Homo sapiens: one gene and its partners. The protein of the gene in region 3 purifies or fractionates together with the protein of the main gene of each other region. This does not show direct contact. Each region holds a gene or a part of one and is shown on either strand. Other genes may lie near its edges.

Region 1 (3,655 bases), on a different chromosome or scaffold from region 3:
GACCCCAGGAGCCAGGCATTGTTCTTACCCCAAAGCCTCAGGTCAGACTTCTGCTGCTTCACGTTAGAAGTCATGATCTTTTGTATTATGGTAAAGGGAGCTTGGAAAATTAAGTACTTTTAATTCCATTTAATGTTTCTTTCAGTCTTGAATCCAGATAATAGTTTTGAAATACTGGTTGACCAATCTGTGGTGAATAGTGGAAATCTGCTCAATGACATGACTCCTCCTGTAAATCCTTCACGTGAAATTGAGGACCCAGAAGACCGGAAGCCCGAGGATTGGGATGAAAGACCAAAAATCCCAGATCCAGAAGCTGTCAAGCCAGATGACTGGTGAGTCTTGGGGAACTGTCTTCAAGTGTAAGGGAGCATTTCATATATTCCATGTGGCTTGAACAACGAAATGTTGGTTGAGTAAGCTCTGATAATTTCAGTAATCCATGATGCAGTCTAATCTGTAGGGAAAATATAGAGTACTATAGCTGGAAAGGGGCCATAGTGTAATCATCTGGATTGACTCACCATTTTACAAGCCACAGAATGCCACACTTGATAAGAGTTTGTCTGTGGTGACACTGTTGGTTTGTGGCAGAATCTCAGGTCCTTTAACCTGGCTACTCCAGGGCTTCTGTGAACTCACATTTAAAGCCAAAGTTCTGAAATGCTAAATTTTAATTTGAAAAATAACCTTTTTCCTATTTAAACAACAGTCAATTCTCTGCTGTGGGTTGGGTGGTAGAATACAAAGCCACAAGGACACCACCATCTGCCTACACAGAGCTTGAAGTCCAGTTGTGAGGCATGATGTTGGCATGTGGTATCGTAAGGGTTCATGAGAAGGTGCCACAGGAGACCAGAGCACCAGGTGTACCTAAACTAGGCATGGTTTCTTGGAGCAAGGCAAATCAGATTGAGACTTGGCAGTGAGGTGAGAATTAAGGAGTTGGTGAATATGGGAAGGGGTGTTTCTGATTGAAGAATGTCGTATGCAGAAGTAGAGGAGCAGCAATGAGCTTGACATGCGAGGGAGAAATTACATGGCCTTTTATGTAGGGTGCACATTGAAGAGTGAGGAGAAATGAAGATAGCTGGGGCTGTATTCTTGTATATGGCTGTCTTTGAACTTGCAACTTCACACAGTGACTCCAGAAATGTCAGAAAGTGAACAAAGAAATTCTTACCCTTTGTAAAATATCCTCCTATGCTTAGCAATTACATTCTAGATTATCTTTTTCCTCCTTGAAAGGTAAGATACATATAACTGAACTTTTGTACTGCACTAGTATAAATGCCAAGTTTACTTGTATATTTGGTGTATATTAGATTTGGACTTAGCCTTGTTCAGTATTATATTCCTTAACTAGCTTTATCACCTAAGAAGGCCCCTGTACCCATTAAGCGGCCACTCCCTGTTTCCTCCCCCAACTCCCAGCAACCACTAACCTGCTTTCTGCCTCTCTACATTTGTCCACTTTGTATATTTCATATAAAATGGAATCATACAGTATGTGGCTTTCTCTGTCCAGTTTCTTTCATTTAGCACAGTGTTTTCCAGGTTTATCTGTGTTGAAGCATGTATCAGTACTGCATTCCTTTTTATGATTGAATAAATTCTACTGTTTTGATAATGCCACATTTTATTTATCCATCCTTTGGTGGACATTTAGGTTGTTTGCTCCTTTTTGTCTGTGATTATGAATAATGCTGCTATGAATGTTCATGTACTGGTTTTTACATAAATATGTTTTTTCTTTTCTTGCTTTTTTTTTTTTGAGATGGAGTGTAGCTCTGTCGCCCAGGCTGGAGTGCAGTGGCGCCATCACGGCTCACTGCAACCTCTGTCTCCCGAGTTCAAGTGATTCTCCCGCCCTAGCCTCCCAAGTAGCTGGGATCACAAGCGCATGCCACCACACCCAGCTAATTTTTGTATTTTTAGTAGACACGGGGTTTTACCATGTTGGTCAGGCTGATCTCGATCTCCTGACCTCAGGTGATCTACCCGCCTCAGCCTCCCAAAGTGCTGGGATTGCAGGCGTGAGCCACCACACCTGGCCTCTTTTCTTTAGACATGATCTCTGTGTTGCCCAGGTGGGAGTACAGTGGTACGGTCACGGCTCACTGCAGCTTCCACTTTCTGGGGTCAAGCGATCCTCTCCCGCCTTAGCTTCTCAAGTAGCTGGGACTGCAGGTATGCACGCCTGGCTAATTTTTATGGGTTTTTTGTTTGTTTGTTGAGACAGAGTCTCGTTTTGTCACCCAGGCTGGAGTGCAGTGGCACGATCTCGTCTCATTGCAACCTCTGCCTCCCGGGTTCAAACGATTCTCGTGCCTCAGCATCCCAAGTAGCTGGGACTACAAGCGTGCACCACTGCACTCGTGCCTCACCCTCCAAGTAGCTGGGACTACAAGCGCGCACTACTACAAAAAATTCTTGTATTTTTAGTAGAGATGGGATTTCACCATGTTGGCCAGGATGGTCTCAAAATTCTGATGTCAAGTGATCTACCAGCCTCAGCCTCCCAAAGTGCTGGGATTACAGGCGTGTGCCACCGTGCCTGGCTGTGCATGTTTTTTCTTTTTTTTTGAGACGGAGCTTCGCTCTTGTCGCCCAGGCTGGAGTGTAGTGGCGTGATCTTGGCTCACCACAACCTCTGCCTCCCGGTTTCAAGTGATTCTCCTGCCTCAGCCTCCTGAGTAGCTGGGATTACAGGCATGTGCCACCACGCCCAGCTAATTTTGTATTTTTAGTAGAGATGGGGTTTCTCCATGTTGGTCAGGCTGGTCTCAAACTCCCGACCTCAGGTGATCTGCCCACCTTGGCCTCCCAAAGTGCTAGGATTACAGGCATGAGCCACTACACCTGGCTTAATTTTTGTATTTTTTGGTAGAGACAGGGTGTCGTCATATTGGTCAGGCCGGTCTTGAACTCCTGTCCTCAGGTGATCCACCCGCCTTGGCCTCCCAAAGTGCTGGGATTACAGGTGTGAGCCACCGCACCTGGCCTTGTGTATTTTTTTTTTTTTACTAGAGACTGGGTTTCACCTTGTTGCCCAGGCTGGTGTGGCCTCAAGTGATCCTCCTGCCTTGGCCTCCCAAAGTGCTGAGATTACAGGCATGAGCCACTCTGTCTAGCTATAGATATATATTTTCATTTCTCTTGGGTATATATACCTAAAAGTGGAATTGCTGGGTCATGTGGTAACTAACTTTTTGAGAAACTGCCAAACTGTTTTCCAAATGAGCAGTACCATTTTACTTTCCCACCAGCAGTGTATGAGGGTTTCAGTTTCTCTGCGTTCTTTCCAGCATTTGTTTTTATGAGTCTTTTTTATTAGAGCCAACTTGGTACTAAGTGGTATCGTTTTGATTTGCCATTTCCCTGATGGCTAATGATGTTAAGCATCTTTTCGTGTGCTTATTGTATGTTCATATTGTATATTTTTACATTCGTATGTCTTCTTTGGAGAAATGTCTATTAAAATCATTTGCCCATTTTTAAATTGGGTTGTCTTTATATTATTGAGTTGTAAAGAGTTATTTTACTAGGCCCTTAGCAGATATATGATTTACAAGTATTTTCTAAGAGGAATTATTTTAAATTTTGAGATTAAAAACAAATTTTTTTAGAATACTCTGTTCTGATCCACAAAGTG
Region 2 (3,655 bases), on a different chromosome or scaffold from region 3:
TATCTACTTTCCTCACTAGCACTGTTGGATTCCTAGAGAAAACAAAGCCCTTCGTCCAAGGTTAGTATTAATTGCATTTTTTTCCTTTCATCATTTCTTACTTGTTGGCCCTCAAATGTTAGTTAACTGAAGGCTATCTGGCTACATCCATGTATCTATGGTTTGCTGCTCTGAGATGGACTTAATTTTTCTTCTTCCTCTTTTTTATTTTTGGTATCAATAAAGCCCAGATATTCCTGGTCAGTGATGCCTTTATTATTCCTGTTTCCTTTGTACTCAGTTGCTTCACTGGGTTTAAGGCATGCTTTGTGTATTTAGTTTGCAAAAATAAAACTTTTAGTACAAATTTTTTTTATACAAACTTTTATGGCACAAGCAGCAAATCTGCTGTTTTAAGAAAATATATAAATATCCTTTTCTTCTGTACAAATATCTCCAGTATTCCCTACCCCATTTTATAATTTTAACTGTACATGGTCTGCCTCATCCTTCTCTAATAGCTCCCTCCCCCCCTCCAGATCTCAACCAAATTTATATTTACATTTTTACGTTGGAGGCAGTCAGAGGAGGAGGGCCCCTCCTCAGGAGGAGTCTGTACAGGGAGAGGGTGGCGGTGGGTAGAGGTGATGAGAATAGCTCCTCTCTGTGTATGGAGAAGGTGGGCAGCTTTCATAGTTCTCCTCTGCTGACAAGTATTGGCTTCGGGGTGTGGGAGGTGGGGGCACAGGTTCTGAATCATAGTTCAAGTCACTGGTATAGCCCTTGGCTGTTGCCACTGAGGTCATTCTCCGACTAGGAGCATAGTCACTGTCACAAACATCTGTGCTGCAGGGTGTGGTGGGGGGTGCAAAGTGCCGGTAGCTATATGGCCTGTAGCTGGTATAGGGAGAAAATAAAGAGAAGCAGTTAGTTTTACAAAAAAAAATGATTTCCCCTCTCAGAATAGAGGTATTAGATGTCAACTACCCTATGAAAACAATAAGCTACTGCAATTTAAATTTACACAGACCAAGAGGCAATTTTCAATGGCAGATTCGCTGAGGAAAATAGCAGGTACTTTCTTATTTGCAAATAAGAAAGTGGCAAGTGAAAATGAACAGGATGGGAATGCAGAGGTGAATTCAATCTAGCCTCTGGTTGTGCTCTTACATCTTCAAGTTAAACTGTATCACAGAATAAAAAATGACTATTCAAATTTGTTCTGCAGTTTCATAGCCCATGGGAAGAATGGGTTTTTACATATTTTACACTACTCAAACATGTCAGCATTCCCTCAACATTCTTTACTCCAAAATTAACCTGATGAATAATTAATTTAATGACATCTGAAGTCTTCATTTCTTTCTTCTGTACAATTCTGTACAATTTCTGTACAGTCCAGGCTGGATTTTGGTAGACAGCCTCAGGGGCATAACTATTCCATTGTTGTTATCTTAGCAAAGGGAAATTGCTGTGATTGGGGGAAACGGTTTTCATTCCCTGTGTATAGGTAAGTACCTCTCATAAGAGCAGCTTTAAACATCAAAATGATAAAATTTAAATGCCCATAAAGGGTCAGTGAATTTTCTAATGTATATTTCAGAGGCCTAGTTTATTTCTTACACTTGTTTATCTTTACAAGTGACATACAGTTGTTAGGTTTGTAGCACTGCTAACTAAAGAAAAAGGCATTGGAAAGAGAGAAACATACTAGTGAAAATAAGATCTGACCTAAGTTCTGGCTTTTCTGTCATTCCTACTTCTATTTTTAACTTCTTATACCTGTTTATTCTAAATATGGTAAAGCTGATCTTAAATTTATCCCAAAGATTTTTTCATAAGCTTTCTCATCAAAGTGACTACAAGAGAAGGGGAAAACCAAGTTAAAAACTGATACAACGATTCATAAAACACCTAGTGATACAGAGCACCACCAGGTAATATATCCCAGGAACCCAGGATACAAACCATTTGATATCACTTGGCTTGCTTCAAAAGAAATGGCTGCCAGATTGTTCACAGTCACAGATCAAATTCCTTGTTCTACTCTGTCTCCCCTTCTTACTACTGCATTTGATTAGTCTTTAAAAAAGAAAGAAAGAAAGAAACCAGCCTGGGCACCATAGCAAGACCCCGTCTCTACAAAAAATAAAAAAAAGCTAGCCAGGCGTGGTGACACACACCTGTAGTCCCAGCTACTTGGGTGGCTGAAGCAGGAGGACTGCTTGAGCCCGGGAGGTGGAGACTGCAGTAAGCTGTGATTGTGCCCCTGCACTCCAGCCTGGGTGACAGAGCAAGACCCTGTCTCAAAAAAAATAAAAATAAAAATAAAAAGGGTGCAAGGCTGCCAGAGACCAAAAGTTATATGACCCACTGAGTGAGTTCTCAAAGGCTTTTACTATCAATACTGACATGATGTCACAGTTTGTTTTGTTTAACTCTTTGTCCAATCAGGTGTCAATCCTTGGTGAAATTTCTAAGGTCAACATTTAAAAGTCCAAATACTTCTATTTTCATGAAAAAAAAAAAAGAAAACAAACTGAATTAATAAAATTTTTTCATGTCCCAGTTTAAACCAAAATCTCAACAAATGATGTAAGTTTTGACTCAGAGGAAACAGAAATTGGGCTTATACGGAAAATAGTTAAGCAAGAATAGTTTTTTATGCAATCGTGTTTATTCTGATGAGTGCCTTAGTCAATTTGAATTAAGGACATTACTTTTAAAAAATAAAATTTTGTATCTTTCTCCTTTCTCAATTTTCAGGCTTCTGCTTTTTCTGTTTTGGCTTCCTAGAAGAAGAAACTTGTGGCAGGGAAAGCAACATTACAACATATCATTAAAACAATCAGTTCACAGCCAAGGCTATTTCAGTCTTATCTAAGCTGAAATGAGAATTCTGAGTGAGATACTTTAAGTGGTTTCCACTTCATTTCTACACATGGGTGAGGTCGTATCAGGCCAATTTGACTGAAATGCTAGGAAAGATAATAGAAGATTATCTAGAGAGGATAGAAGATAGAAAAGATTATCTAGAAGATAACAGGCACTTGAGGGATGCCCATGAACCCTGGGCACTTCAGTGTGTAGATAGAAACTCTCAAGCTACTGATGGTCTGTTGGCCTTTCAAGGAACATAGAAGTGGAAGCTGACACAACAGTACTTGACCTGCTCAACACACTTTATAGACTCATAAATTAGCAAAAAGGAATAATTTTCTCTTTTTTGGCTTACAAATACACTTTATTTATTTCAATCTTTCTTTATTCCATGCAACTACATGAGAAATCTTTCACTCCAAATTGTAATAGCATATGCAAGCAATGGCTGAACTTACATTTCTCTCAACTTTTCTAAAATTCTGTGCTCTGAGTATGTTGCTGTTTTAAACTCTCAATTCTATGAACCAATCTTATCCCAATATTTCATTCTTAGAATATCAAACTATTTTGAAACCAGTCACTTTGGTGGGTAATTCCTCCTTAGAATACTGCCAAAGCCTGAGGCTGTATTTTATTATTATAAAAGCCAGCATTTGTGACTCTCTTAAAAAAAAAAAAAAGTATAGGCCAGGTGTGGTGGCTCACACCTGTAATCCCAGCACTTTGGGAGGCCAAGGCAGGCGGATCACCTGAGATCAGGAGTTCGAGACCAGCCTGGCCAACATGGTGAAAC
Region 3 (3,483 bases):
GTATTCCAGGCTCAGAGAGCAGCCCATAGAAAGCCCTGAGGCAGAGAAAAGCATAGCTTATTTGAGGAGACAAAAGTTCATCATGGTCAGGGTGTAGCACTAATGGAAAGAAAAGGGTTAAAGATGATTGAACAAAGTGATTTTTAGTTTACTTATTTGTTTCTATGTTTGGCTAGGAAGCCTGCTATTCTAAACCATTAATTCGAGAATCCACATTTGAAAGCCTCAAATTTAATTTGATGTATGTACATTTATTGGGTAAGATGTGATTCCTGACCTCAGATAACTTAGAGTCTGACAGGAAAGATAAGACACATTTTTGTAGTATTATAATACAAGTCAGAATGTACCTTAAGGGAAAGACAGAGTGCCATATGAATGCAGGAACACCTGTGCTGGATTTGTTCCTGCATTCATTTCTTCAACAAATACTTAAATAGTATCTTCTCTGGGGTTACAAGGATGAACAAGACACAAACTTTAACTTCAAGGAATTGATTCTACTAAGCAAGGCACATACATAAATCATTAGAATTCTTTAAGCACAGAGATAGAAATATGCACAGGCTATGATGAGATAAATCAATGGTTTTATTTTATTGAGCACTTATTAAATACTTTACATGCATTTCCCATACCCCCCTTACTAGGTAGGTATTCTATCCTCAGTTTTCAGATGAGAAAACTGGCACTGAGAGAAGTTAAAGCAATTTCAGAGGTCCCAACATTTGAAAGTTGAGGATACGGAATTCAAACCCAGTTCTTACTCATGACAAGCCCCAGGCTCCTAACCATCCTACATAGAATCCTGCTTCCCAATCTCTCATAGTACTCAGGGCAGAGCATCTCATCTGAGCCAGGCAGAGATGACAAATGCCTCCCTGAGCTTAGTTTAGGGATTAGGAAGTGTTGGGGAGGTGAAGGGGGGTAGGTGGGTGCCCTAATAGAGGGACAAGCTGAGTAGACCCAGGAGGAAGAAAACTATCCAATGTTAGGGTATTATGTCCATTCTAGGCTGTTGGAGATTAAGCCAGGAGGCAGAAAATGGCCAGAAATATGCCTGGAGAAGAATTGGGATCATGCAGGATATAGAATGTATAGTGGGAAACAGAACTGGAATTGGATTTGCATTTTAAAGTGATTACAAGGGCAGCTGTATGGAGGATGGCATTGAGGGAAATGAGAGTGGGAGAGAAGTTCAAGATTATCGTAGAGTTGTAGACAGGAGAAGGTGAGAGTCTGAACTTAGATATTAGCAGAATGGATGGGAGGAGAGGAGAAGCTTGAGAAAAAGTCAGGCAGTGAAGTTAATGGGCTTTCTGAATTCTGTGGCTGTGAGGAGTCAGCTTAGGGAGAAATCGGGGTTGACTTCTAGGTTCCTAACTCAGAAGATGGAGTAGATGGATGGTGTTGCCACCAAATAAGGAGAAAGCAGGTTTGGGGGTTAGGTGATGAGTTCAGCTTTGGTCATGTTGAGTTGGAAGCTCCAGTGAGACATCTAGATGAAGCAGTCCCACAAGAAACTGGGAATCTGAATCAAAGTTCGTGATAGAAACATAGCCTAGAAAAAGATTTCGGAACCATCAGCCTAATGGTGGAGCTAAAGCAAGGAGAGTGGAAGAGAGTCCCCAAGCAGAGAGGGTAGAGCGAGCTGAATGTGGGATGGTCATGCGGGGCAGGCAACTCTTGGAGGGGGCACCCATGTGGAGGTCCTTAAAGAGGAATAAAGGACACTTCAGGTCGTGTAATAGTGTGAGCAAAATAGGGGAAAAAGCAAGAGGTGTTTTCAGAGAATGTAATGGTTCCATGTGGCTGGATAATAGTGGGTTTGATGCAGCTATCAGGTGATTAAGCTGGGAATGGGTTATAGTCTTGAGAGATTGAGGCCAGGCAATGAGAATGGAATACAATTCAGCCTTGAAAAGAAAAAAATTCTGGTACGTCCTTCAATATGGATGAACCTTGAGGACATTATGCTAAGAGAAATACGCCAGTCACAAAAAGACACATGCTGTATGATTCCATTTATATGAGGTATTTTAAGTTATCAAATTCATAGAGACAAAAGGTAGAATGATGGTTGCCAGAACTGGGGGAGGGCAAAAAGTGAAGTTGTTTAATAGGTGCAGAGTATCCATTTTTCACAAGGAAGGAAGGTATGTGATGGGATAGTGGTGATGCTTGCACAACTACACTAAATGCTGCTGAACTGTACACTTAAAAAATGGTGGCAAGGCATGGTGGCTCATGCCTGTAATCCCAGCACTTTGGGAGGCTGTGGCGGATGGGTCACGAGGTCAAGAGATCGAGACCATCCTGGCCAATGTGGTGAAACCCAATCTCTACTAAAAATACAAAAATTAGCTGGGCGTGGTGCTGTGCACCTGTAGTCCCAGCTACTCGGGAGGCTGAGACAGGAGAATAGCTTGAACCCAGGACGTGGAGGTTGCAGTGAGCAGAGATGGTGCCACTGCACTGCAGCCTGGGCGACAAGAGTGAAACTCTGTCTCAAAAAAAAAAATAGGTAAGATGGGGAGGGATAGGAAAATATTCATTAAAAGGATACCAAAAAATGATAAGGTGATAAAATTTTATGTTATGTGGATTTTGCCACAATTGAAAATATCAAAAGAAGAAAAATGCAAAGAGAAAAGAAGTAATTTTTAAATAAATAAATAAAAAAGGCAGGACTTCTATTCAGAGGCTATTTCCAATAGTTCTGAGGAGAGCCAATGTGGTTAGAATTGGGTAGGTAGCAGCAGAACTGTTAGTGGACCCACATGAAAGGGCTGTGTTTATATGTCAGAGTCAGTCAAATGTTGGCAATGTCATATGGTTCAACCTAATAGAAAGGCAAAAAGAGACAAATCCTTTAATGAAGTTCAAGAAAATATACATTATAACCATTTAAGTTAAATTGCAAAATATTTCCTGGGGCACTTGCTCTCAAACTAATAACCAAATAGCAAATATTTTCCATTTTCAATCATCTTAGGTCAATTTGAAAACAGCTTTTTAGTTTTTATTGGAGAAACTCATATTGTCTTCACTTGTTCAATGTGAAGTTGAGTTGCCAAAATTGCCTTCAGTACACATTTGTCTTTTATATTTCAAACAGAGGAAAGTTTCCATTTCCCCATTTCATTCTGAAAGCTTTCAAAAAGTTTGGGCAGTGCCCAGTGCTGTCCCCGTCCCTCACTTCATCATTTCAGCTCTAGTTCTTGCACTTGGCAGACTTCGGACGCCAAGTTTCTGCTTCAGTGCTGGTCAAAATCCCACAGAGGACTTTGGTACCAATACCCACTGACAATTCTCTGAGCTGAGAGTTGTTAACTTTTCAACACAGTGACAGAATGAAAAGAGCAGGTTGTATTATCATTTATAATCAACCAGGACTTAAAAAATTCACACACACACGAGAAGTACCCCAAGAGATTATTAAAAAGGAAATTTTCAGGTGGTTTTCATAGAGATTCCAATTCT

What was found.
Region 1: the proteins of CHST9 (region 3) and CANX purify together in Homo sapiens (affinity purification with mass spectrometry; 4 studies listed by BioGRID and IntAct, with this or other methods). This does not show direct contact.
Region 2: the proteins of CHST9 (region 3) and LRP6 purify together in Homo sapiens (affinity purification with mass spectrometry; 4 studies listed by BioGRID and IntAct, with this or other methods). This does not show direct contact.

The regions. Positions count from the first base shown.
Region 1 is NC_000005.10:179,715,960-179,719,614, forward strand, and holds part of CANX (calnexin isoform d precursor), read left to right. Parts: coding exon of another isoform or gene 1-41; intron 42-145; coding exon 146-335; intron 336-3,655. UniProt on the Homo sapiens protein: Calcium-binding protein that interacts with newly synthesized monoglucosylated glycoproteins in the endoplasmic reticulum. It may act in assisting protein assembly and/or in the retention within the ER of unassembled protein subunits.
Region 2 is NC_000012.12:12,120,545-12,124,199, forward strand, and holds part of LRP6 (low-density lipoprotein receptor-related protein 6 isoform b precursor), read right to left. Parts: intron 2,785-3,655; coding exon of another isoform or gene 2,735-2,784; exon of another isoform or gene 2,638-2,734; intron 2,062-2,637; coding exon of another isoform or gene 1,971-2,061; exon of another isoform or gene 1,948-1,970; intron 877-1,947; coding exon 582-876; 3' UTR 1-581. UniProt on the Homo sapiens protein: Component of the Wnt-Fzd-LRP5-LRP6 complex that triggers beta-catenin signaling through inducing aggregation of receptor-ligand complexes into ribosome-sized signalosomes.
Region 3 is NC_000018.10:26,905,908-26,909,390, forward strand, and holds the end of CHST9 (carbohydrate sulfotransferase 9), read right to left. Parts: 3' UTR 574-3,483; downstream 1-573. UniProt on the Homo sapiens protein: Catalyzes the transfer of sulfate to position 4 of non-reducing N-acetylgalactosamine (GalNAc) residues in both N-glycans and O-glycans.